Linked DNA regions of Homo sapiens: all the other regions are linked to region 1. The links come from fine-mapping of genetic effects on gene expression. A gene starts in region 1. Each other region holds a variant in brackets. All regions are shown on one strand. Distances are between the middles of the regions.

Region 1 (6,112 bases):
ATCACTTGAGTCCAGGACTTTGAGACCACCTTGGGCAACATGGCGAAACCCTGTCTCTATAAGAAAAAAAAAGAAAAAAGAAAAATTAGCCGGGCATGGTGGTGCCTGTAGTCCCCGCTACTTGGGAGGCTGAGGTGGGAGGATCACATGAGCCCAGGGAGTCGCTGCGGCAGTGAGCTGTGATCATGCCACTGAACTCCAGCCTGGGCGACAGAGCGAGACTCTGTCTCAAAAAATGAAAAAAGAGAAGAAAATATCAAGTCAAACAGGGCTTAAATGAAAAAAATCGTGAAATCAAAAATAATCTGATACTACATTCTGTATTCTAGAAGAGCTGGACACAAGGGTCAGAAGAAGAGAAAAACTTTTTTAAAGTGCAAGACATATAGCTTTGTGTAGGCAGAGCTGCATAGGCCCTTTACAATAACTCTGTACCTCTCTCTTCACTTCCTCTCCCCACCGTGATCTCTGGCCAACAGATTAGAAACCACTGCTATAAGAATTCAGATAAGCCGGGAGCGGTGGCTCACGCCTGTAATCCCAGCACTTTGGGAGGCCGAGGCAGGCGGATTACCTGAGGTCAGGAGTTCAAGACCAGCCTGGCCAACATGGTGAAACCCCATCTCTACTAAAAATACAAAAAAAAATTAGCCAGGCATGGTGGCACATGCCTGTAATCCCAGCTACTCGGAAGGATGAGGCAGGAGAATTGCTTGAGCCCGGGAGACGGAGGTTGCAGTGAGCCGAGATTGCACCACTGTACTCCAGCCTGGCTGACAGAGCAAGACTCTGTCTCAAACAAACAAACAAACAAACAAACAAACAAAAAAGAATTCAGATATAAGGAAAACCAGTGTGTCTAAAATATGTTCTAGGGAAGGTAGGACTTTGGCTTGAGTTTGAAGAATGAGTAAGAGAAAAGGAGAAAATGGGTGTGGAAAGACCAGAAATGGAAAAATTTTGAGAAGACGCATTGAAAATTGAGAAAATTCTCCCTTCCAACTTTATGAATTGGAAGTGACTACTATTATTTGTTTTAATAGTGGAACTATTAAAACCAGGCAGGCACAGTGCTGAAGCATGAATGAGACAATGGGAAGCCATGGAAAGCATCTAGGCAGCAAAGAAAGGTTGTTAGATTTGGAAATTATGTTTTTTGGAAGTAGCACAGCTTAAAAAATTGTCCAGGTGTAGTGTGGCTCACACCTGTAATCCCAGCACTTTTGAGAGCTGAGGCAGGAGGGTCTCTTGAGGCCAGGAGTTTGAAACCAGCCTGGGCAATATAGTGAGACGACGTCTCTTACAATTAAAACAAAACAAAAAAGAAAACAAAAAACAGTCGTTATGTGCTCCTTTTAAACAATTCAAACAATATGAAAACAAAAATTACAGTCGGGCATTGTGGCTCATGCCTGTAATCCCAGCACTTTGGGAGGCTGAGGCGGGCAGGTCAGGAGGTCAAGAAATCGAGACCATCCTGGCCAATATAGTGAAACCCCATCTCTACTAAAAATACAAAAATTAGCTGGATGTGGTGGCGCGCGCCTGTAGTCCCAGCTACTCAGGAGGCTGAGGCAGGAGAATCGCTTGAACCCGGGAGGCAGAGGTTGCAGTGACCTGCGATCGCCCCCACTTTACTCCAGCCTGGCTATAGATCCAGACTCCGTCTCAAAAAACAAAAAAAACCTACGTGCAATCTGACACCCTTTCCCCCAAGATAATCATTGCTAATATTTTGGCGAACCTCTTTCCTGAAATCTCTCCATGCTTGTAGAATATTGTGTCAAACCTCACATAAATGCACTCGTGTAGACATGCTGTTGTGTAATCAACTTTTTCCCCGAAGAATAAATTGTGAATAGCTTTTCATGTCAATAGATTTATATCATTTTAAATGGCTCCTTAGTATTGCATTGTATGTATATGTCACGTCTTATTTAAGCAGCACCCTATCGATGAACATTTACTCCCTTCATAATTAACTACGTCATATAACAACTTTGTGCATTCATCTTTTCGAAATTGTTCGATCATCTTTTTAAGGTAAATTCTTAAAAGTAATGGAGCTGGGTCAAGAAGAGGATATGCCCTTTGTCGTTTGGATTCAAGTTGCCGAATCGTCCTCAAATTTGCAGGGAGACCAGCGAGGAAGCTCCGGCATTAGTTCTGGTGAGAGACAGCTGAAACGGAGATGGCGAGGGATGAACAGAATCACAGGTGATCTAGCCCATCAAGGCCCATCCTCGGTGGGCTGGCGTATTCCTTCCCTTTTGCCTCTCTTTCACTTCTTTTTCTTAACATGGAGGAAGAACCGAGAACTCCATCTCCCAGCATTTCGCAGGGACCACACTCCCTGGGAACTGTAGTACCGGGTCTGAGAAGGGTCCGGAAGGAGAATAGGAAGCTGAGGGGCATGCTGGGAGGTGTAGTCCAGAGACAGAGACGAGAGGGAGAGGGAGAGAGGGAGAGAGGGAGAGAGGGAGAGACAGAGAGTGTGTGTGTGTGTGTGGGCGGGGGGAGGGGGGTGTCTATGCAAAGAGGATGGAGACGCTGCGAGTACGGCCCCTTGGGGATGGGGCCTCGGGCGACCTGACTTTCCTCACAGGTGGTCTTTGAGTCTACAAAATTCGCCAGCGGATGGTTGGCTTTATTCCACTGTCCGTGACCGGAGAGGGCGCGGCCCCTCTGCACCGGGCTCGCGGCGGGAGGCGCAGGCCGCGCGCGGGCTAAAGCAGGGCATGCCGGGAGTTGTGGTCCCGGCGCTCTGAGGCTGTGGGACGTGTCGCGGCGCCGCGCCGGCTCCTCCTTCCCTGCCCTTCTGAGCGGTCCCCCGCCTCCTCCCTCCGCCTCCTCCTCCCTCGCCCGCAGCCGAGCGTCCCCTCCCCCCACCCGTCGGGCTCCTCGGCGGCTACTGCAGAGGATTCAGAGCCGAGTCGCTGAGGAGGAGGCTCCGGTCCCCGCGCGCCATCCGCCACCCTACTGGACACGGGCGAGAGCGTCGCCGCCGTAGCCTCCGGAGAAGACAAGGGCATCGCCGCCTCAGCCGCCGCCGCCGCCGTTTTCGCCTGCAGCTGCTCACCGGTGAGGAGACTCCCCCCGCCACAGGGTCCGCTGGTCCTGAGTCTGGGCCGGTGGCGCTGGCGAGAATGAGAGGGGAGGCTGCGGAGCCCCCGTGCAGGTTGGGGGGAGGGGGTTGAGGTCGCGATGGAACGGCGGGCTGGCGGGGGAGACTTGTCCAGGCGCTGGCCGGGGGTGGGGTGAGGGTGGGACCCAAGCAGGTTGGGGGGCGGGCGACAAGGGAGGAGGACTTTTGATGGAGAATAACCCAACCTGGGACAGGAGAGTGGGGTGGGGGCGTCGGGTTGGAATTCGGGATGGTCTTGGGGCGAGGTGGAAGATGAGACTAGGGTGGGATGGCTTTTAATGGGGGAGGGGACTGAATGAGGGTGGTGATTTGGGTTTGGCCTGGAGCAGTTGACAGCTTGGGATCTGAGCTGGGGTGAGGGGCAGGGGAATGATTTCAACGGAGAGTGAGTGGCATGTACAGGGTTGGTTAGGGCCCTGCGTAGTGTTAATTCAGAAGGGTGGAATTTGGGGTGGACCTGGGGCAGGATGATGGAGGTGGCAGGAGTTGGGGGTGAGGGGCTTGGCATGGGTTGAGACCCAAGCTTGAAGTGGGTGTTTGTCATCTGGGGCTGGTGGAATTTGTGGAGACTTATGGAATAGCATGGGTTAGGATAGAGCAGAAGAGTGCAATTTGGGGGTTTCCTGGGGTGGGCTGATGGAGGTTGGAATAGGAGTTGGTGGAGGTGGGACATTCAGTGAGGGGAGTGTGATGGTGAGCTGGCAGGAAGGGGCCACATTGGAAGTCAGGCCCGAAATGGGAGGACAGGGATGGAAATGGAGTGTGGGGCACAGTGGGTTGGATTTAGGGTGATCTTACAATCACTGGAAAGGGCATGGTGGCTCCTTGGTTGCAGAGTCAAGGCAGAGGGCACATAAAACATCACTGGGCTGCTTTCATTGAAAGGATAGCGGCAGGGGTGAGCAAAGTTGGGGGATGGTATCTTGAAGAAAATATCCCTTGGCCAAGGTGGCAGAGGGAGTTTTGGAGAAGGACTTTCGGAGATGAGCTGGTAGGCCTGGGGAGGTGGTTGCTGATGGTGAGGTGGCACAGGGGAAATTTAAGGAATGGGAGACCTGGAGCTGTTGGTATGGATGGGGCAGAGAGGATGGAGAGGGACAGTGAGCTGTGCTGGAGAGCAGGGGGGAATTGGGTTGGATTATTTTGGTGGTGAAGGATTGGGGTGGCCTCCAAGAGACACATGAGGGTTAAGGGTTGGAATACTTAAATGAACAGCCTTGGTGGCTGTGGTTGGGTGAGAGGCAGTAAGGCTGTTAGAGGGGACTTTGCAGGGGACACGGAAGAGACCTTCTCATTCTTAGGGGCCATTTTAATCTGTTCGGGTGATGTTTTTGTTTGTTTTATTTATATTAGTAAAATTTGGAAGTCAAGTCAGCCCAAAGGGTAAAGTTGAAAGGGGATTTAGTTAAGGTAGAATTAAGGAGGGGAGGGTGTCTTCTGTTATTTGTATATCATAAAAAGTAAGTTGGGGGAAAAAAGCATACTTCCAAACTAAAGGTGGGAGAAGATAAACTGGAATGTAATGGATATCTTTCTATATGATGTCTCTGCCTTTTCTTTTCCCCTCTCCTCCTGGTGTATTTAAAAACTAGCCAGGCATTTTGAAATTTAAATAGATTTGATGAGCTTGAGATTGTTAAGGGTGCATTCCTTGCTTGAGAACTAATGAGTGAGCCTGAAAAATATGAGACTGAATTTATTTTGTAGGTAGGTAACAAGCACATAGGCAAAAAGAGCTTGGGCCTTTTTTACCCCCTCTTTAAATTGATTGCTTGAAGACGCCATTTGTTAGTGTCCTGGTTTGCAAGGCAATTAGGCCCATCATTGTATTGCAGGCTAATAATCCTGAGATGAGTCTTGGCACCACCGCTTTATGTAAACAGAGAAGACAGGAAATATGGAAATGTCATAAATATTCATTGGTGAGATGGTTTGGTACTGATGGAGTTTTTCATATGATTGTCTTTTGACATTGATAAGATTTAGAATAATTGGACTGTATTTCTAAAGATTGAATTTTCTTCCAAAGGAATTCAGGTGATCAGAATTCTGTCAGATGTGAATAAATAAAGCATATTGAGTCATTTTTATTTTATTTTTTGGGGAATGATGTTGATGTAGTCGCATTGTATTAACTACAGAAACAGCATCTCCACCTATTCATCAGAAATTCGATTTAAACCTTAGCGATATGCTCATTCTTAGGGCAGAACGATGATAATGGAAGGTACACAGGAGTGCAAATGGAGGGAACATCTTTAGAGAAACAGTTCTATGGACCTAATTGCATTAACTGTGATAATATGTTAAACATAAAGTGGCTGTTGATTAGAGCTCAGACTGAAAAAAAATGAGGAGGGATGTAAAGAAGATAAAATTGGCACCATTGGGATCGAAATAATTCTTTTTATTTTTGTTCAAGCTTCAGAATTTAGCTCGCAAACAAACCATTTTCCTTGGCTTTCACGATTGAGCATATAAAAATACCATTTAGAATCTTTTTTTTTTAGCTCCAAAATGGGCAGAATGATGGAACGTTGGACTTATCCTTTGAATTGAAAGTGTTTTGTAATGAGGAAGCTTTCTGTATTATAATAAAGATCAGGTTTGAGCAGTTACCTGTAATTCAGTGAGACTGTAATCTAATGTGAGCATTTCTCTCATAACTTTACTCTGAGGTCTAGACGTTGTTTTTGCAGATCTGCAGGCTTGGTCTAGAGGTGGGATGTTTATATTAAAGCCCTAGCTTTTGAAAGCCCAAAATGAAAAGTGCCTGGGAGAAATGTGTTGGTGGATTTTTTTTTTCCACAGCCGTGGTTACCTGTGTAGTAGTAATGTGTTTTTGTATCTTTACCTCATTTGATCCTCCCGATATCTTGGTGAGAAGAGAGCAGATGGAGGTATTGATAGACAGAAGCCTTTGTGGAACGAATAGCCCATGAGTTTAGGAGTTGAGTCCCAGATTCA
Region 2 (6,112 bases), 180 kb after region 1:
TGTTTTAAGAGGTTCTTTTACCCAGGCAAAAAATTACCCCTCCTTATTCAGGAAAGGTCATTCTCTTTGATCATGCACTCAGCTTTGGGGAAACACAAAGCACTGAGGGAAGGAGAAGGAAATACTCACCTGGCCAACAAGTTGATTGGGGAAGGACTGTTACTGCATTTTAGGGGGAAAGGACAGAGGGCACATTTTGAAGGTCTGTGGGTCTTTGGACAGAGAGGGCTCCCCCCTCTAGCACAGGGCTTCTTAATCTCAGCACTATTGACATCTAGGCCAAATAATTCTTTGTTGTGGGGGCGCTGTCCTGTGCATTATAGGATGTTTAACAGCATCCCTGGCCTCTACCCTACATGCCAGTAGGAAAGCCTCATTGTGACAACCAAAAATGTTTCTAAACATTGCTAAGTGTCCCTTATGGGGCAAAATTGCCCTCTGTATGAGAAACACTGCCCTAGTGCAAGCTGCACTGTGGGACCAAGGTGTGTATGAGGAGTCTTCAGGGAGGCCAGAAACCAGCTAGCCAGTCAGACTGGTCATATTCATCCTGAGGCTCAGTAGGGTAACTGATGTTGTCACCGTCACATCTAATTTTTAACACAAAGTGGTTCCACTGGGGAAATGAGGACCAATGTTTAGAAATTACTGAGTGGCAGCCGGGCGCGGTGGCTCATGCCTGTAATCCCAGCACTTTGGGAGGCCAAGGTGGGCGGATCACGAGGTCAGGAGATTGAGACCATCCTGGCTAACACGGTGAAACCCTGTCTCCACTAAAAATACAAAAAAAATTAGCCGGGCATGGTGGTGGGCGCCTGTAGTCCCAGCTACTCAGGAGGCTGAGGCAGGAGAATGGCATGAACCCGGGAGGCGGAGCTTGCAGTGAGCCAAGATCACGCCACTGCACTCCAGCCTGGGCGACAGAACAAGACTCCGTCTCAAAAAAAAAAAAAAAAATGAAATTACTGAGTGGCATTTTGACTCCATATAAGGAAGAACTTTGTGTCTTGTTGGAGCTGTTCAATAGAGGAATGACTGACTTTGGATGTGGTGAGAACTTCTCTCTTAAGTTGTGAGGGCTGGATAAGCCCTCAAAGGGATATTCCAGGCAAGGCCTGATAGTGTGTGGTTCCACAAATTATTAATCTACTAAGTAAGTAGACTAGAAGAATTCATTGTATTTTTTTCTTTTCTTTAAAACATCTGTGTTAGTCTGTTCTTGTGTTGTTATAAAGAAATACCTGAGGCTGGGTAATTCATAAAGAAAAGAGGTTTAATTGGCTTACGGTTCTGCAGGCTGCACAAGCATGGTACCAACCCCTGCTTAGCTTCTGGTGAGGGCCTCAGGAAGCTTACAGTCATGGCGGAAGGCAAAAGAGGAAGCCAGCATATCACATGGTGAGAGAGGGAGCAAGGGGCTGGGAAGGTGCCACACTCTAAATAATCAGAGCTCACTCATCAGCAAGGGGATGGTGCTAAGCCATCATGAGGGATCTACCTCTGTGATCCAGTACCTCCCAGCAGGCCCCATTTCCAACACTGGAGGTTACATTTCAGCATGACATTTGGAGGAAACAAACATCTAAACCATATCAACATCCAATGTCATTTTCTCAAGTTTTCATTGCCCCTAGATGTCAACATCAGTTTATGTTTATACAACGTAACTCACCTTTTGTAAAATATAGTCTCATAATCACCCTTTCATTTAATCTACATTACACTCAGTCTACTAAGTTATTTAGGTGGATTTTCATCCCAGTTTGAACGATGAGGCCTAGAAAGGTAATAGGTCCAACGCCACCCAGCTAGTAAGCAGCACAGCCGGAAAAAGGTATCACCCAGGTTAAGATTCAGTTACTGACTTTTCTCATGAGATTGATTTTACTCTTTAAGAGAGGTATGTCAGGCCAGGCGCGGTGGCTCACACCTGTAATCCCAGCACTTTGGGAGGCCGAGGTGGGCGGATCACAAGGTCAGAAGATCGAGACCATCCTGGCCAACATGGTGAAACCCCATCTCTACTAAAAATACAAAAAATTAGCCAGGCATGGTGGCGGGTGCCTGTAGTCCCAGCTACTCGGGAGGCTGAGGCAGGAGAATGGTGTGAACCCAGAAGACGGAGCTGGCAGTGAGCCGAGATTGCGCCATTGCACTACAGCCTGGGCAACAGAGTGAGACTCCGTCTCAAAAAAAAAAAAAAAAAAGAGAGAGAGGTATGTCAGCCATAAGGAGTTTCTCCAGATACCTCAGGTAGAATGAATGAACATACGTAAGATTATATATATATAAAAATAGGGATATACATGTTCTCTCTTACATCTAAACATCTGGATATAGACGCATATAGGCACACCTACTGTAGTGTAGCAGAAAGCAGCCTGGAGTGGAAGCTGCATTGAATTCTAGACTGGGTTCTGTGTAACCTTGGATAATTGATGTCCATGCATTGGACCTTGATTTTTCAAACTGCAAAATGAGGGAACTGAACTAAATCATCTCCAAGGTTCTTTCTTGCAATTAGACTCCTTATCTCTCAGCAAGATGATGTGTACTCAGCGTCTTCCACCCCAACAGGGACCACCTCTCTAGCTGCCCTTAGCTGGCCAACAAACCATCTCCAAAAATGGAGTACTCATTCCCTTCAGAGGCAACCCTTTCCACAGGAAGTCTGAGTAACAGAAGGCCTTGCCTTCTACTATGTTGAAATCTTCCTGAAATCCCATTAAGTGTCCAGCAGCCACATCCCACTGTTCCCTCCCAGACAGGCTATCACAGTCCCTGAAAAAGACCAAAATGTACCCACCCCCACCTTTTTTTTGAGACAAGGTCTTGCTCTGTCACTCAGGCTGGAGTCCAGTGGCACAATCACGTCACACTGCAGTCTCAAGCTCCTAGGCTCAAGCAATCCTCCCTCCGCAGCCTCCCATGTAGCTGGGACCACAGGCATGCAAAACCATGCCCAGCTAATTTTTTTAATTTTTTGTAGAGATGGGGTTTTCCCACATTGCCTAGGCTGGTCTCGAACTCCTGGGCTCAAGCTGTCTGCCCACCAGCTACCATGCCTGGCCTACCTCTGTTTCAAGCAAGTAATGTATAAACCTGTGCCATTTTTTAATGCAGTTGGGGTTGACTGGCCCTCCCATACTCAAAAAGATTCCTCCCAGCATTCAGATTTTGTGGCTTCTAGTACCACAGAAAATTCAGGGCACTTTGACAAATTCAGTTCAATTTCACTGATACTTGCTAAGCCTGTTTGTAATTAGGTCTCCTGCTGATTCATCACTGTCTCACTTGGCTACCAACAAGGAGTCTTAGGGGTCAAAGCAAGATTCAGACATAGAGCTTTATTTTGTCCAGACATATAAATCTGATGATCAATAAACCAATTAGTCTAAAAGGCATCCGTGATGCAAGGATCAAGCCTTTGAAGGTGGTAGGGCTTCTACAACTGAAAAAGATTTATGACAGTGAAAAAGGATTGCAGAAAGCGCTGAAAAGGTTTTATCTTGTTAATGTACATACTCTTTTTATTATCCCATTTGATTCTAAAATTATGGTTAGGAACCTAAGAGAAAGAATAGGACATCATAAACAAAGCCTCTTTTATAAGGCAGAGCTGGGACTTCGAGTGATCTAATTC[A/C]TTTTTTCTTTCATGATATTGCCTTTAGTGAAATGGGGACAACAAAGGCCAGTATATTAAATGCCCAAGATTGGACTACAGAGACTTTAACTCAGCAAGAGCTCTGCCTAGGGCAGGGTGAGCCCTGAACTTTGGGCCTAGCTGTGTACTGATGTGCTGTACAATTTGGGGAAAATCTGTCCTTCTGGGCTCCAGGTTCTTTCTCGGAAAAGGAGGAGGTTGAATATAAACCTCTAATGTCCTTCAGGCACAACATTCCAAAGTCTTAATTCTGTGACCTTCAGACTTAGAATTCCTTTCAGGATAGCCAGGCCTCCAGTGAGTGAACTGAGTCTAAGTTCATTTGGGCAAAATCTGTGAGACTTTTTTGCAACAAGCCCAACAGCTTCTTTTACTTAGATGCATAAAGTAATAAACCCTGATTTTTGTGTCACCCAAGCTCAGGCTATAGCTCCAGGGGAATTTTCAGTGTTCCTCAAGAGTATTGACAGGACCACTAGTAAATTATGGAAAGTCCTCTGAAATGATTTCCTCATGAAAGTCTTCTGAAATACTCAGAGACCTAGAATGTCAGCACTAGAGAAGTTCTCTGATACTGTCTAGTCCAAATGAGGATATTCCCTGAGAGGAATTGACCTGACTTACTGACAGAACCTAGGATGAGGGCCCCCAGGCAGTTTCTCCAGCCTCATGAAGATCCTCCTGACAAATGGTAACCTTGAGAACCACTGTGGTTAGAGGAAGTAGCACTGAGTCTTAGATCCCCACAAACAGCTCTCTCTTTCAGCAACTACTCATTATCTCATCTGTGAAATGTTTACGTTGGTCTTAATGATCTCTGAGTCTTCTAGCTCTGCAGTTCTGCTTCTATCTCAGACTGTCTGGACAAACAAGCAAGGCCTTCTTCTGCAGCATCATCTCTTTGGCTGCCAAGGGTGTTTTGGCTACTGATTTGTATTCTGAGTATGTGTGTGTCTCATTTCATAACATGAAGAAAGGGAAACATTCTCAGACAAGGTTATTCTTAGATGTGGGAACCAAATTCTACTGCAGTCTCTTGGAGCTTTTTGATTTTCCTCAGAGGGATAGTCTCACCACTTTGTAATATGGCTGTCCTTGTGGCATACAGTGGGTAATCCAGCTTCCCCAGGGAAGAGAAAAATTCCAGAGCACATTCTCCAGGAGCATAAAGGAAAGTCATCAGCATCTTTGGCCTGTTAACTTTAAAGAATCATAAAATCATGGCATTTTAAGCCATAACATTTTAGAATCTTAGAATCCTGGAGTCTGTGTTCCAAGCTGGGACAGACCATAGTAGTCATAGATTAGCTTTAGTCTCTCAGACCAGGCTCTGCCTGCATACCCTTAGGACAGAAGCTTACTGTCCCTATAAAGTGAGAGAGAAAATAATAATAGCTGATCTTTATAAAGTGCTTCTAATATGTCAGGTACTGTTCTAAGTGCTTTTTACTTAACAGTTAATGTATTTATCACAATGAAGTAGGTACCATTACTGTTCCCATATCACACGCGAGACTGATGTATCCTATAGCTATTAAGTCTCAGAGCTGGGGGTTTGGACCCAGGCAGTCAGTCTGTCTCCAGACTGCTCATAACCATGGCTCTGTGCTACAGAGCTTTCAGAAACAGGCACCTTCTGATTCAGGGGTGTCCTACTCTCCTGCATAGAAAAGGGATGCTTTCAGCTCTGCTAGGTTTCTCTACACCTTGATATATTCCTTTAAATTAGGGGTCAGCAAACATTCCTGTAAAGGGCCAAATATTTAGGCTTTTAAAAAGGCCATATGCTCTCTGTCAGTGACTACCATTGTAGCAGGAAAGTAGCCTTAGTCAATATGTAAATGAATGGATGTGGATGTGTTACAATATAACTTTGTTTACCAAAACTAGCTTCAATTACAAAAAACATGGCTGAAATTTAATTGTTTTAAATGTTTATAGTATGAATAAAAGATTCTGTGGTAAAATTAATTTGGAAAATACAGTCTTGTACATACTCCCATCTTAGAGATTCACAGTTCACCTCCCCACCTTCTTTAAGAGACAGGGTCCTGCTCTGTCACCCAGGCTGAAGTACAGTGTTGTGATCATGGCTCACAACAGCCTTAGACTCCTGGGCTCAAGCCATCCTCATGCCTCAGCCTCCCAAGTAGCTGGGGACTACACCAGCCACCATGCCTGGCTAAGTTTTTTTCTTTTTTTAGAGATGTAGTCTGTCTGTGTTACCCAGGCTGGTGTTAAACTCCTGGTCTCAAGTGCTTCTCCTGCCTTGGCCTCCCAAAGTGCTGGGATTATAGGTGAGAGCCATCACATCCAGCCCATCCTATTGTTTTAAAAACTTCTCAGGGTCATGGAATAAAAACAAAATCTTAACTGTTTATCTCTATTTTACATATGGGACTATAGAACTCTTTTGTTTCCTTTTCTTTGGCAAAAACAACTATTAAG
Region 3 (6,112 bases), 200 kb after region 1:
TGTTCTTCAGCCTCTCTCTGAGGCCGTTAGTTTAAATGTGTCCCTCTCTCCCGTCTTTAGACAACATAACAAACAATAAAACCCTAAATTAACTGAAAATTGTCTCTCCCCAGAGCCTGAGGCCCCACCCAGCTATGGCCTGCCAGGCTTCGGCAGGGAGCTGTCTCCCTCAATCCACCTGGCCCTGGCCCTGGTCTCCCCTCTCCCTTTAGGCGAATCCCACCAAGTTCCTGTGCCACTCACCAGGGCACAGAGCAGTCCTCCTCACCCCCCAGCAGCACCTGGCCTTGCAGCCCACCCTGCGCCCACCCCTCCCCTGGCTGCCAGGACACTGCCACGGACGTTGCCCTCCCTGGTTTCTTTCCTGCCTCCCTAGCAGTGCCTTCTCTGTGGTGCCCTGGAGCAGCCCAGGCATCGTCCCCAGGACATTTCCTCCCAGCCCAGTCCTGGCCTAAACACCCACCTGAGTGCCTGTAGGTCTTCTTGTCTCCAGGTCTGTCTCCTGAGAGCTCTGGGCCTTCACATCTGGATGGCATGGGACATCCTCCATGGCTGTGTCACAGGTGCCCCCAGGACTGCTCCTGTTGCCCCACCCAGCTGGCCCTAAGCCCCCGACCCATTTCCCATTACCAAACCCTAGCACAGGGGTGTCCAATCTTTTGGTTTCTCTGGGCCACATTGGAAGAATTTTCTTGGGCCGCATATTAACACTAACAATAGCTGAAGAACTAAAAAGAAAAGAAAAAAGCAAAAACATCTCAATGTTTTAAGAAAGTTTATGAATTTGTGTTAGGCCCCATTCAAAGCCATATCCTGGGCCACATGCGGCCCTTGGGCCGGGTTGGAAGCTTGCCCTAGGAATTTTAGATGGAGACGCTCTGTCTTGCCGGGTGTAGCACCCGCTCCTGTGGCTCCTTTCCTCTCCACACTGGCCAAGCAGGAGCTGAATGCTTTGGAGGCTCCCTGGGCATAAGGCCCAGGTGACCACTATGTGTTGGTGCTCAGCCTTTGCACATGCTGTCCCTCTCTGTGGAACACATTCCCTGGCCCGCACATCTTCCTCACCCCCAATTACCTCCCGGGCTCCACACAGTGCATTTCCTCAGGTGCTGCGCTGACCAGTGTGGTAGCTGCTGGCCACGTGGCTATGGAGCCCTTGAAATATTTGAGTTCCAATCAAGATGTGTAAGATACACTCCAGATTTCAAAGCAAAAGCAAAAACAGCTCATTCACACTTTTTATACTGATTTTATATTGAAATGAAAATATTTTGGATAGACTGGGTTAAAAAAAAATTAAGTTCACCTGCTTCTTTTTACTTTTTGAAATGTGACTGTCAGAAAATTTAAAGTCACATATGTGGCTCACACTATTTCTGTGGGACAGCCCTGCCTCTAGCTAGGGGCTTTGGTGAGAACCAGATGAGTTGATGGGTCTCCTCTGGGCCCTGCTTCCCTGGCTGCTGAGGTGCAGGAACTGTGAGGGGAGGGCAGCCTGTCACGGTGCCCAACACAGGGCAGGGCTGGACAGGTACAAGTGGAACAGGCGGATAAGCTGGGAAGGGCACAGAGAAAAGGAGCTCCTCGTGACAGCACTTTCCCACCTTTTATTATTCAACACATGGAAGGGGGTGGAGACACAAGGATAGGGCAATGGTGAGTTTCAATAAATAAGAGAAACAGGATGGACAGGCAGTGGGCCCATGCCTGCACGGCCCCACATAAATAACCAGGTTGCTGAGCCAGAGTGGAAGTCAGGGCTGGGCCTGGCAGCCGCCTGCACTGCCCAGAAGCACTGGCACCACAGGGACACAGAAACCACTGAGGCCCAAGGTGTGCTCCAGCCCCACCAAGTCTTCTCCCTAAAGCTCCTGAGATCTTGGGGCTGGCTGGGCAGGCTAGGGCTCTGTATCACAGTCCTGCCGGGATCAAGTCTATTTTTTCAGTTTCATTAAAAACAGCTGGGGGAGGGGCAGGCACATGCATTAAGCCCCTTCCGTAGGCAGAGCCATGGATGGACAGCCCCATGGGGGCCTTGAAGGCAGAGGCCCTGGAAGCAGCAAAAACGGGGCTGGATAAAGCTACTAATGGGAGGGATGGTAGAGCCCAGCTCCCCAGTCCCCCACAACCCAGCCCAGAACCTACAAAGAGCTGAAGAGGCCCTGGGTACTGAGACGTCTCTCCTTACTTCACAGTCAGAAAAATGGACCCAGCGATGGCCACAGATGTGCCCAAGATTAGAACCCAGGGACTCACTCTCCTAGCCCAGGACTTTCTGCTACCCCTTCCCTTTATAGACCTGCTGGAAGAGGAGGGGGACGCACATCTGCTCTAGGGCCCTGTACAGAGGCAAGGGTGTGGCTAATTACCAAGGAATGGGGCCAGGGGTGACGGGCACAGGCCCCTCCCCTCTGCCAAGCCCAGCCTCTGATGATACAGAGAATCCCGTGGGCTCCTAGGATCCAGCCAGGGCAGGCACGGGGGTCGGGGCATCCTTCAGGGGAGCAACATGGCAGCAGGGCCAGGGGCGGGGCTCAGCCTGCTCCTGTACACAGTGCCCGCCGGCCACCTGCCTCCTCACTGGGGCAGACGCTCCCACCTCCAGGCCTTGGTCTTTGCTGTCTCGTCTGCTGGGCCATTGCTTCTCGGTCCTCACAGTCCCAGCTGCAGCTCCACCTCCTCCAGGAAGCCTTCGGAACCTCCCAGGGCAGGGCCGCAGTGTCCTTAGACTAGACCGCCCCTCAGATGACCAGGTTGCTCTCACTTAGCCGGACCACATAGCGGTTCTCCTGGTGGGCAGGGGTGAGGGGTCAGAGCTGAGTCAGGGGCTGGCTTCTGGCTCCAGGAAAGTGGCCCCTGCCTAGGGCCC[G/A]CTGCACTTCCACCCCTGCCCCGTCTTCGGTCAGGGTTGGCCCAGGTGCCAACAGATGCCTTTCTCCTTGACTCTCACCTCGGCCTTGTTCTCTGCTGGGGGCTTCAGCCACTTTGTACGGCTTCCGCCACTTCCTAGCAGGGCCTGCTGCTCAGGGGGGAGGCCAGGCTGTGGGGAGTCAGGGAGATCACCCCACGAGGGCCCAGCCTCCGTGATGGTCTTCACCTCAGACACCATTGAACTTGTCCGCTGCTCAGGAATTCGAGCCACGCGGAACCTGTGAGGAGAGTGGGGCAATCATCCCCGTTAGCGGGGATCCCGGGGCACAGAGAAGGCAGCACGTGCCCGGGGTCACACAGCAAGTTCATGGACCAGAGCCTTAGCCTGAGAGGCCCGGGTGCCATGGGGGCCAAGATGCTGCCCTAGGGATGCAAGGGCTCCATGTGAGACACAACATAACCGGAAAGTCCTGATCTCTCTGGCCGCCTCCACTGCCCAGAGAGGCCCAATAAGGGCAGGGCTCCCATTGAGCAGGGTGCTCAGGGCCCAAGCTGGGGCCCTGCCTCCCCCTCCCGGCCCCCAGGCTGTCACGTCTTTACCTGCCCCTGCTGCATCTGTGCCCATCTCACCTGCCCACAGACAAGATGGTGATCTCGCCCTGACGCCCTGCCTTGGCCCCGGCCTTGGGAACCCTGGTCGGGTTAGGCAGAAGGCTGGGAACAGGAGTAGTGGCGGCTACAGCCTCAGGGGACAGCAGCACCTCGGGCCACTTCTTCTGGCTACAGCGGGAGCAGCAGGGGCCAGAGAGCGAGGCCAGGCCCTGCACGGTGTGGAGATGGTGGCGGTGCGGGCAGATGTGTGGCACGTTCGGGGGCGCTGGCGGCAGCCTGCAGGGGGCACAGGCAGAAGTGGCCATAGGCCAGGCCAGGGGCAGGAGACCCCAGCAGGGAACAGGGTGACTTGAGGGAGACCCAAGTGGGAGATCCCCAGGAGGCAGGCTGGTTAATGTAGGTTTTGGCCCCGTTATCTCCCACCAGCCCACTCACTTGGACACAGGCCTGTGGCTCGTCTGCACCAGCTGTTTGCTGTGGTACTCTTTCAGCAGCTCCTCCAGGGCCGCAGCATTCTCTGTGGGTAGCTGCAGTCAGACCCTCACTGTGGCCATATGGGACACACCTCCCACCCCCTGCCCCAGCAGAGAACCCCCCACCTACCCTCCATACCACCACTCCCAGCCTGGGCTGTGCGCCTTTTCCTCCCACTTCATCAGGCAAGAATGGGAGGCAGAGGTGTGCACTCCTGGGTCAGAGAGCACCAGGCTGCTTGAGGCACCCTGGCAGGGAAGGCAGAGCAGGGCAAGACTCTGCCCACCGCGGCTGCCTCACAGGCTCCTGGAGGAAACCCTCCTCTCCTGGGCACTGGGATGGGGTCAGACCTTCTCCTCACCTTTCTTCTCTGTGATCAAGCGCACCAGGACCCCAATGGTGTCCTCATTGGCATCCTCAGTCCGGTAGGCAGGGTTGATTCCTGGGGAAGAGAAGGGCCCTGATCCTGGGGAAGAGGGGGAAGCCGCACTCCTGAGCTAAACCATGATCTGCCAGCAGAGGGCAACCCTGGCCTTCTTAAGGGCCCTGAGCATGTGCATTTAGGTGACAAGCCTCCCAGAGCCCTGCAAATGTGGGATCCAGGCTCAGAGAAGCCCATATCACCTTCATGATTCAACACCAGTGCTTCCTGCACCCAACAGCCCGGGTGCATAGAGGCTTCAGGGCCACGTGAACTCCAGTCATTGAATTGGGCGGGCGAGGGGGCGGTGCGTCAGCGTCTTCTGGGTCTGCACTGTCTCCTCCTCAGCCTCAAGGAGCTGTGGGCTGCCACCCTACCCAGAACTCCCCAAATCTACAGCAAACTGCTATTCCATGGCCTCTCTACTGTGCCCTATGTAACAATTTAACTGAGTGCCCCTAGTCAGCTTTGGGCCCAAATCTCAAGGGTGTGAGAATGGGCCACGATGATCAGCCCTGGGCCCAGCAGCAAACAGAGCTCCCAGGACTTGCACCCAGGCAGCATCCAGCAGTTAAAGGGAAGTCTCTAGGAAAACAAGCACAGTCCCAGGCAAAATGGCCCTGAGTCACCACGTTTCCTCCTGCCGGCTTACTGCTCCTGTCCGCTTCCTGCCCCCGCCAGACTTCAGTGTCAGGACTTAGAAGGGTCTCTGGCTCCCATGCCAGCCCCAGACAGCCGAGGGTGCTAGCATGGGAGATGCCATTTCACTCTTGAGGTAGCCACAGGCTCCCATGGGCCCAGGGCAGGGTGTGTGCGAGTGGGCCCCTGCCCTGCAGGGGAGTAGTGGTGTGGGGAAGAAGGAAAGGGGCCCGGGGCCCTGGGGGTGAAGGTGGTGGCGCATGCCTGTCCCTCCGGTTCCAGGCCTTGTAACTCAAACTACAGCCTGGAACCAAAACCCGAGCCCCTTATGGTGCCTGCCCAGGACAGGACAGCTGCCCTGCCAGCCCTCCTGCCACAGGGCACTCCTGCTACTCCAGGCCAGAGGTCAGAGGTCACCTTGAGTAACTCCAAGGCCACCATCCGACCCTGGAACCATACACACAACTGTGGCCTCCAAAGAGTCCAGATCCCCACATCTGGGCAAGGCTTCACCCAGGGTAGGATCCACTGAAGCCACTTGACCAGCTGTGCCACCTCTGCTCTGCCCCCACGGCCACACCTTCGTCCCCTTACCTTTCCTCCCATGTTGTCAGTCTGCAGCTATCACCTCCCAAGCCTCTCCCTCTCAGACCCCAGAGGCCAGGCAGGATTCCGCTGGCAGCCCCCAAGTGGAGCTGGGGCTGGGCTCGTGCCCCCGTCCTTCCCACCTGGACCCCAGCTGGGCCTCACCACTGCCTCCACCTCCAGGGCCGGGCCCGACCTCCTTGTGCGCCGTGCAGTGGTAGCCCTTCCGCTTGAGGAGGTTGCACACCAGGATGCCCAACAGCCCCATGAGGCAGAAGACAGGGACGATGGCGATGACCGCGTACTGGGCGGCTGTCTCCTCTGGGCCACCTGCCCGGGTGCCGTTCCCAGGCTGCCGTGTCTCACCACCGCTGCTGGCCCCTGCTGCCACCTCCACGCCACGTCGGGCCCGCCGCCCCCACTCTGAGCATCACAGACGATGGAGGCAGGACAAAAGCAGAGTGACACAAACACAGAGAGACAGGGGCCCAGGGCCCGAGTCAGTGGGGGCTG
Region 4 (6,112 bases), 120 kb after region 1:
ATCTAGTGGCAGTCACAGCACTGCCCACCTGCTCCCCCATCACCCCACTTTAGTTGTTTTTTTCTTTAAATTCTAGCTTTCAGTATAACAACAGTACTATATTGCTGTTAATTCCAAGGCTGTTTCCCTCATATAAATACCCCAGGGACAGAAATTGTGCCTTGTTACCCCTGAATCTGTAACACTTTATGCATGGCCTGGCACAGCAAGTATCAGTTTATATAAAATGAGTGTGCTGAAGTAAATGACTTAATCTCTTTTAGCTTATTAAAAATTTGTAACTATTGAATCAACAATTTGTATTTTTAGTAGCTTTATTGAGGTATAATTTAGATATGATAAATGTACTCATTTTAAGTGTACAGTGTTTTTTTGTGAATTTACAGAATTTTGTAACCACCAAAAATCATTTTAGACTTTTTTTCCACACCAAAGAAATCTCTTGCTTCTATCTGCAGTCAATCGCCATTCCTGCTCTGAGTCCCAGATGATCAAAAATCTACTGTTTGCCTGTACAGATTTGTCTTTTCTGAACATTTCATATAAATGGAATCATGCAATATGTGTTCTTTTGCCCTGGCTTCTTCCACTTAGCATAATATTTTCAAGGTTAATTCATGTTGTGACATGTATCAGTAGTTTGTTCCTTTTTATTGATATTGTCGATATTTAACATTTTAAAATTTATTTTCTCACTGGTTGCTTTGGGGATTAAATATGCATCTTAATTTATTATAACTTATTGCATTTATTTCAGTCTAGTTCAGATGCAAACTAATGTAATTCAGTAAAATGTAGAAATGTTGCTCCAATATGGCAGCATTCCCATACTTCCTTACTTTGGACTCTTGTTTTTATGTAAATGGTATCTTTATATATCATAAGGCCAACAATTCAGTTTTATAGTTGTTTTATGCAATTGTCTTTTAAGCCAGTTAACACGAAAAATATTTATACCTTGTTTTATCTATCTATCTATCTATCTATCTATCTATCTATCTATCTATCTATCTACATATCAGCTTTCCTGGTGCTCTTTATTTTTGTGTGTGGACTTGAATTACTGTCTAGTATCACTTCCTTTCAGTCATAAATATTTAGTATTTCTTTAGTATTTTTTGAAAGGCAGGTTGCTAGCAATGAATTGTCTCAATTATTTATCTGGGAATGTGTTTATTTTGACTTCAGTTTCAAAGGATAGTTTTGCTGGATTTAGAATTCTTGGTTGACAGGTTTTTTGTTTGTTTTTTCAGCACATTGAATATACCAACCTCCTGTCTTCTGGCCTCCGGTCAGCTGTTAATCTTATTGTTATTCCCTTTTATCAGATAAGTTGTTTTCTCTTGCCACTTTTGAAATTTTCTCTTTGACTTTTAGAAGTTTTACTATATTGTGTCCGGTTATGGATCTTTTTGTGTTTATCCAACTTGAAGTTGATTGTATTTCTTGGATGTGTAGTTTAATATGTGTTGTTGTTGTTGTCTTAATCAAATTTGGGAAGTTTTTGGACATTATATCTTCTTTTTTTTTCAATTTGTGGTATAATTTCTTTTTCTTCCCCCTTGACTTTTATTTTAGGTTTAGGGGTAACATATGCAGATTTGTTACGTGGGTAAATTGCGTGTCACTGGGATTTGGTGTACAAATGATTTCATCACCCAGGTAGCGAGCATAGTACCTGACTTTTTTTTGACTTTCACCCTCCTTCAACCCTCCCTGCCCAAGTAAGTCCTAGTGTCTATTGTTCTCATCATTGTGTCTATGTGTACTCAATGTTTATCTCCCACTTATAAGTGAGAATCTGTGGTATTTAGTTTTGTGTTCCTGGGTTAATTTGCTTAGGATAATGACCTCCAGCTGCATCCATGTTGCTGCAGAGAACATGATTTTGTTTTTTGTTTTATTTTTTTAATGGCATAGTATTCCCATTTTTCCCACCTAATTTTCTTTCTCTCCTCTTTCTGGGACTCTCATGCTTGTATTTTGGTTTGCTTGCTAGTTTCTCACAGTTTATTTTTCTTCATTGTTTTCTTTTTGTTTTTCAGATTGTATAACTTCTATTGCTCTGTCTTCAAGTTCAGTGATTCTTTCTTCTGCCAGCTCACGTTTGCTTCTGAGCCTCTCTTGAATGATTCATTTCAGAATACGATTTCCATTTGACTCTTTCAATTTTTATATTTTTTATTGATATTCTCTATTTGATAAGTTATTATCATACTTTAATTCTTTAAGTGTGGTTTTCTTTAGTTTTTTTTTAACATTTGTAATAGCTGCTTTGAAATATTTATCTGCTGATTCCAATATCTAGACTCCTGCAAGAACAAAATTTATTGTTACCTGTTTTTCCCCCACAAATGGGACATACTTTATTGTTTCTTTGCGTGTTTCATGATTTTGTCAGTATTGCTGAAAACTACATATTTTAGATAATATATTGTAGCAATTCTTGATTCGGATTCCACCCACCCACCCCACCCCCACCCCACCATCAGGAGGTTGTTGTTGCTGGGATTTTTTGTTTAGTGACTTGCTTAGACTCTTCTGTAGAGTCTGTCTCCTTTGCAGTGTGATTTCTGATGTCTCTGGCCATATTTTTTTAATTACTATTTTAATTTTTAAACTTGGCTTCCTAAAGGTCACCCCTGGGTTGGCATAGATTAGTGGCCATCCAATGTTTGATCAGGAGTTCTGATTAAA[C/T]GCAGGCCAGGAAGGCTTCCACCCTTTACCAGTGGATCTGTATGTGGTTTGGGGAATGCATTCAAAATTCAGGCAATTTACAGTTATGCTCTAACTTTTAGTTTTGTTATGTCCAAGGCCTTAAATTCACCCAGGATCAGCAGATACAGAAGACCTTCTTTACAGACCACTAGGGATCCTATGAAAGTTTATCAAGACCCACTATGGTTGTTGTGTTCCCCAGACCTCCCTTTAAAATTTCTGGCTTATCTGCAGGTCTGTTGCCTGCACCAACTAGTATGACCTCAGAGTAGCTGCATTAGTGGCCTTCCTGGATTATTTGCTGTTGTTCCCCAAATTGCCTCACTATTGTTTTTGACAATGACTCTGGGCATTGGATTTTCTATGCTCAGTTTCAAATTAAATCAGCCCACTCTGGTTGCAGTAGTCCTTTTAGCCTGGTCTAGCCTGCCCTAGTAGCAGGCCCCCTACAGAGCTTGGGATTGGGATAAGGGCAGCCCCAGGGTAAAATGCCATGGATTTTCACTGTTCTTAATGTGGTTCAGAAGTTTTTCTTGAATAGACATTTCATACTTTGGCCCAAAATGGTTTTTTTTTTAACATTTCATCTCATTTTATTTTTGCTTTTGGGGGAAAGGGTTTGGTAAGCACTTTGTTCCAGAAGTTCCACCTCCTTCTATTACTTTTGGCATTTTAATTTTTATTTAACTTTTAAACTTTCCTAGGTAGACCATATCCTCTTTTGGGCAAACACAATCTTTTTCCTTTCCCAACAGTATCTATCCCAGAAGGCATTAAACCTTTAAGCTTTAGTTTCTTGGTCTGTCAAATGAAATTAATAATCTTTGCATTGCTTACTTCAAAGGACCAAGTGAGATAATGGTTAAAATCTCATTGTAAAGTCTAAAGCACTGTGTAAGTGGTAAAATTATTTGAAAAATTTACCATTTTTACCATTTTTCAAATGGTAAATTTTTCAAAGAATTTTACCATTTTAGTTTGCAAAGTGTAGTAGTTTGCAAACTAAAACACTAAGTTTAAACACTGCAACCTGTTGTGTAAATATTACTTTAATCTCTGGGCTTTTTTGCTTGTCATTTAATGGTCATATATTTCGTTATTTTGAAAGAAATAGTTGAGATGTTTTGAGGGTAGCAGGAAGCCATTTGTAGAACAGTGGGTAGGAATCTAGAAGTGAAAAATCAGCTTCACCAGGAGGAATCTTTAGCACCTCTCTTTTCTCTCTCACATGTCATGCAACTGCTGGGCCTTACCATTGCCTATTTTGCCCAAGATGAGCTCCTAGTAGAGGCTTCTCTGGGCATTGGAAGTAGCTGCTGGAGAGATAGGGAGCCAAGAAGTTGACTGGGATATGCCAAGAAATGCCAAACATCTTGAAGCTTTTTTCACAGTTTTATTTTGGAGAAGCATGAAAGATGGCTCATTGTTTGTTCAACTAATATGTATTTGGTGCCTGTTTTGTGCCAGGTAATATTCTGTGCACTGGGGATACAAGATAAACAGAATCTCATTCTCATGGACCTTACTCTAATGGGGGAAAGAATAAACAAGAAAATATGTCAGACAGTAATAGGTGTTACAGTGGTTTGGATGTTTGTCCTCTATAAAACTTATGTTGAAAATTAATTGCCCATGTAATAGTATTGGGAGGTGGGACCTTTAAGAGGCAATTAGGTTCTGGGGGCCCTGTCCTCAGGGGTGGGCTTAATGTCTGTTTAACAGGCTTTTGAGGAGCCAGCTTTCAGGGAGCTACTTGGGAGACTAGGGCAGGAGGATCACTTGAGCCCAGCAGTTTGAAGCTGTAGTGTGCCGTAACTGTGCCTGTGAATAGACATTGCAGTCCAGCCTGAACAACACAGTAAGACCCCATATCTTTAAAAAAAAAAAATCATTTTTTTAAAAGGCTTTCAGGAATAGATTCTCTCTCTTGCCCTTCCATGGGATGATATAGCAAGAAGGCCCTTGCCAGATGCCGTCCCCTTGATCTTGGACTTCCCATGCTCCAGAACTGTGAGAAATAAATTTCTGTTCATTATTAATTACCTAGTCTCAGCTATTCTGTTATAGCATCACAAAACAGACTAAAATAGATATCAATAAGAAGAGTAAGCCGGGCACGGTGGTCCATGTCTGTAATCTCAGCACTTTGGGAGGTCGAGGTGGGTGGATCACTTGAGGTCAGGAGTTTGAGACCAGCCTGGCCAACATGGTGAAACCCCATCTCTACTAAAAATACAAAAATTAGTTGGGTGTGGTGGTGGGTGCCAGTAATCCCAGCTACTTGGGAAGCTGAGGCAGATTGCTTGAACCTGGGAGGCAGAGGTTGCAGTGAGCCGAGATTGCGCCACTGCACTCCAGCCTGGGCAACAGAGCGAGACTCCATCTCAAAAAAAAAAAAAGTAAGAAAGGATGAGAGAACAGAGAATAACAGCATGTGGAGGACCTATTTTAGATAAGTTGGTTAAGGAAGGCATTTCTGATAAGGTGACATTTGAACAGAGACCTGAATTAAGTGAGGAGCTGTGCCATTTGGATATCTGGGGAAAAGGGCATTCTAGGTGTGGGGAAAAAGCAAGTGCAAAGACCCAGAGGCACAAGCATGCATGGTGTCTTCAGGGAACAACAAGGAAGTCATTGTGATTGAAGTGAAGAAAACAAAAAGATAGTGGTAGAAGTTGCAACCAGAGAGGTAGGCACATCAGGCCATATCATATAGTTATAACTGCCCATGGTGCCCAGCAGTGACCCAGCAGGTGCCAGGTACTGTGGTAGATATGAACTGCCTCCCTGTTGTGATCTGTTAGGGTCCAAGCAGAGCACTTAGGCTCTTGAGTTGAACAAGGGTTTGAGGCCTACTGTTCCAGAGGCGAACCTAGTACTGGGGTAGCTGACTAGAGAGCCTGGAAGCCTCATCTAGTACAGTGAAAGTAACTTGGACATTGAAATCAAACAGACCTGGCTTTGAAATTGGCTTTTCCTTACTTCTTAGTTATGAGATCTTGGGCTAGTCACTTCATTTTTTTGGACTTAAGTTTACTTATCTGTAATATAATAAAAATAATACTTAGTTTGCAAGTATTATAAGACTGACAGGGACTTAGTAAGTCCTTAGCACAGTACCTGTCACATGGTAGGTGTTCAGTAAATGGTAGCTGCTGGTAGTAGGGGTAGTATTTATTATTTTTTTTCCTTTTTTTTTAACCTCCACAGAACCACCAAAGAGGTAATGTTTGTGGTAGTCCTAATGGCTAACCTTCTATGGGGTGTTGATTGTATATCAAACATTGTTCTGAGCAAAATTCTTAGGCATCTCCAATCTAAGTCCAAATCCAGATTTCTGTTCTTCACCCAAAACCTACTCCTCTCATAGTTCTCACCAGTAAATGGCATTTTT

Which allele goes with the higher level. Positions count from the first base shown, and alleles are read on the strand shown. Sizes are in standard deviations (SD) of each study's normalised expression. Not every link is listed here.
With allele A in place of G in region 3, the expression in whole blood of the gene that starts at base 2,892 in region 1 is higher (small effect, 0.26 SD a copy in GTEx).

The links. PIP is the estimated chance that this variant, and not a neighbour inherited with it, causes the effect.
Region 2: its variant is the best candidate, but not a certain one, in a credible set for the expression of FAM168A in whole blood (INTERVAL, PIP 0.87).
Region 3: its variant is the best candidate, but not a certain one, in a credible set for the expression of FAM168A in whole blood (GTEx, PIP 0.64).
Region 4: its variant is the best candidate, but not a certain one, in a credible set for the expression of FAM168A in whole blood (TOPMed, PIP 0.82).

Annotation. Positions count from the first base shown.
Region 1 is chr11:73,594,892-73,601,003 of GRCh38, reverse strand. It overlaps FAM168A (family with sequence similarity 168 member A), which reads left to right and starts at 2,892. Exons shown (of 8, transcript NM_015159.3): 1 at 2,892-3,081. RefSeq lists silencers at 2,449-2,678, 2,809-2,938 and an enhancer at 2,830-3,558.
Region 2 is chr11:73,413,655-73,419,766 of GRCh38, reverse strand. The region is part of intron 4 of FAM168A (family with sequence similarity 168 member A); the gene reads left to right. Among named protein-coding and RNA genes, the nearest start is that of RELT, 40 kb to the right of the region's middle. The variant A/C (reference allele first, on the strand shown) is at 3,644.
Region 3 is chr11:73,392,121-73,398,232 of GRCh38, reverse strand. It overlaps RELT (RELT TNF receptor), which reads right to left. Exons shown (of 11, transcript NM_152222.2): 6 at 5,765-6,022; 7 at 4,316-4,396; 8 at 3,916-3,997; 9 at 3,499-3,756; 10 at 2,948-3,146; 11 at 759-2,789. The coding sequence ends at 2,742. Among named protein-coding and RNA genes, the nearest start is that of RELT, 19 kb to the right of the region's middle. The variant G/A (reference allele first, on the strand shown) is at 2,870.
Region 4 is chr11:73,472,824-73,478,935 of GRCh38, reverse strand. The region is part of intron 1 of FAM168A (family with sequence similarity 168 member A); the gene reads left to right. Among named protein-coding and RNA genes, the nearest start is that of RELT, 99 kb to the right of the region's middle. The variant C/T (reference allele first, on the strand shown) is at 2,698.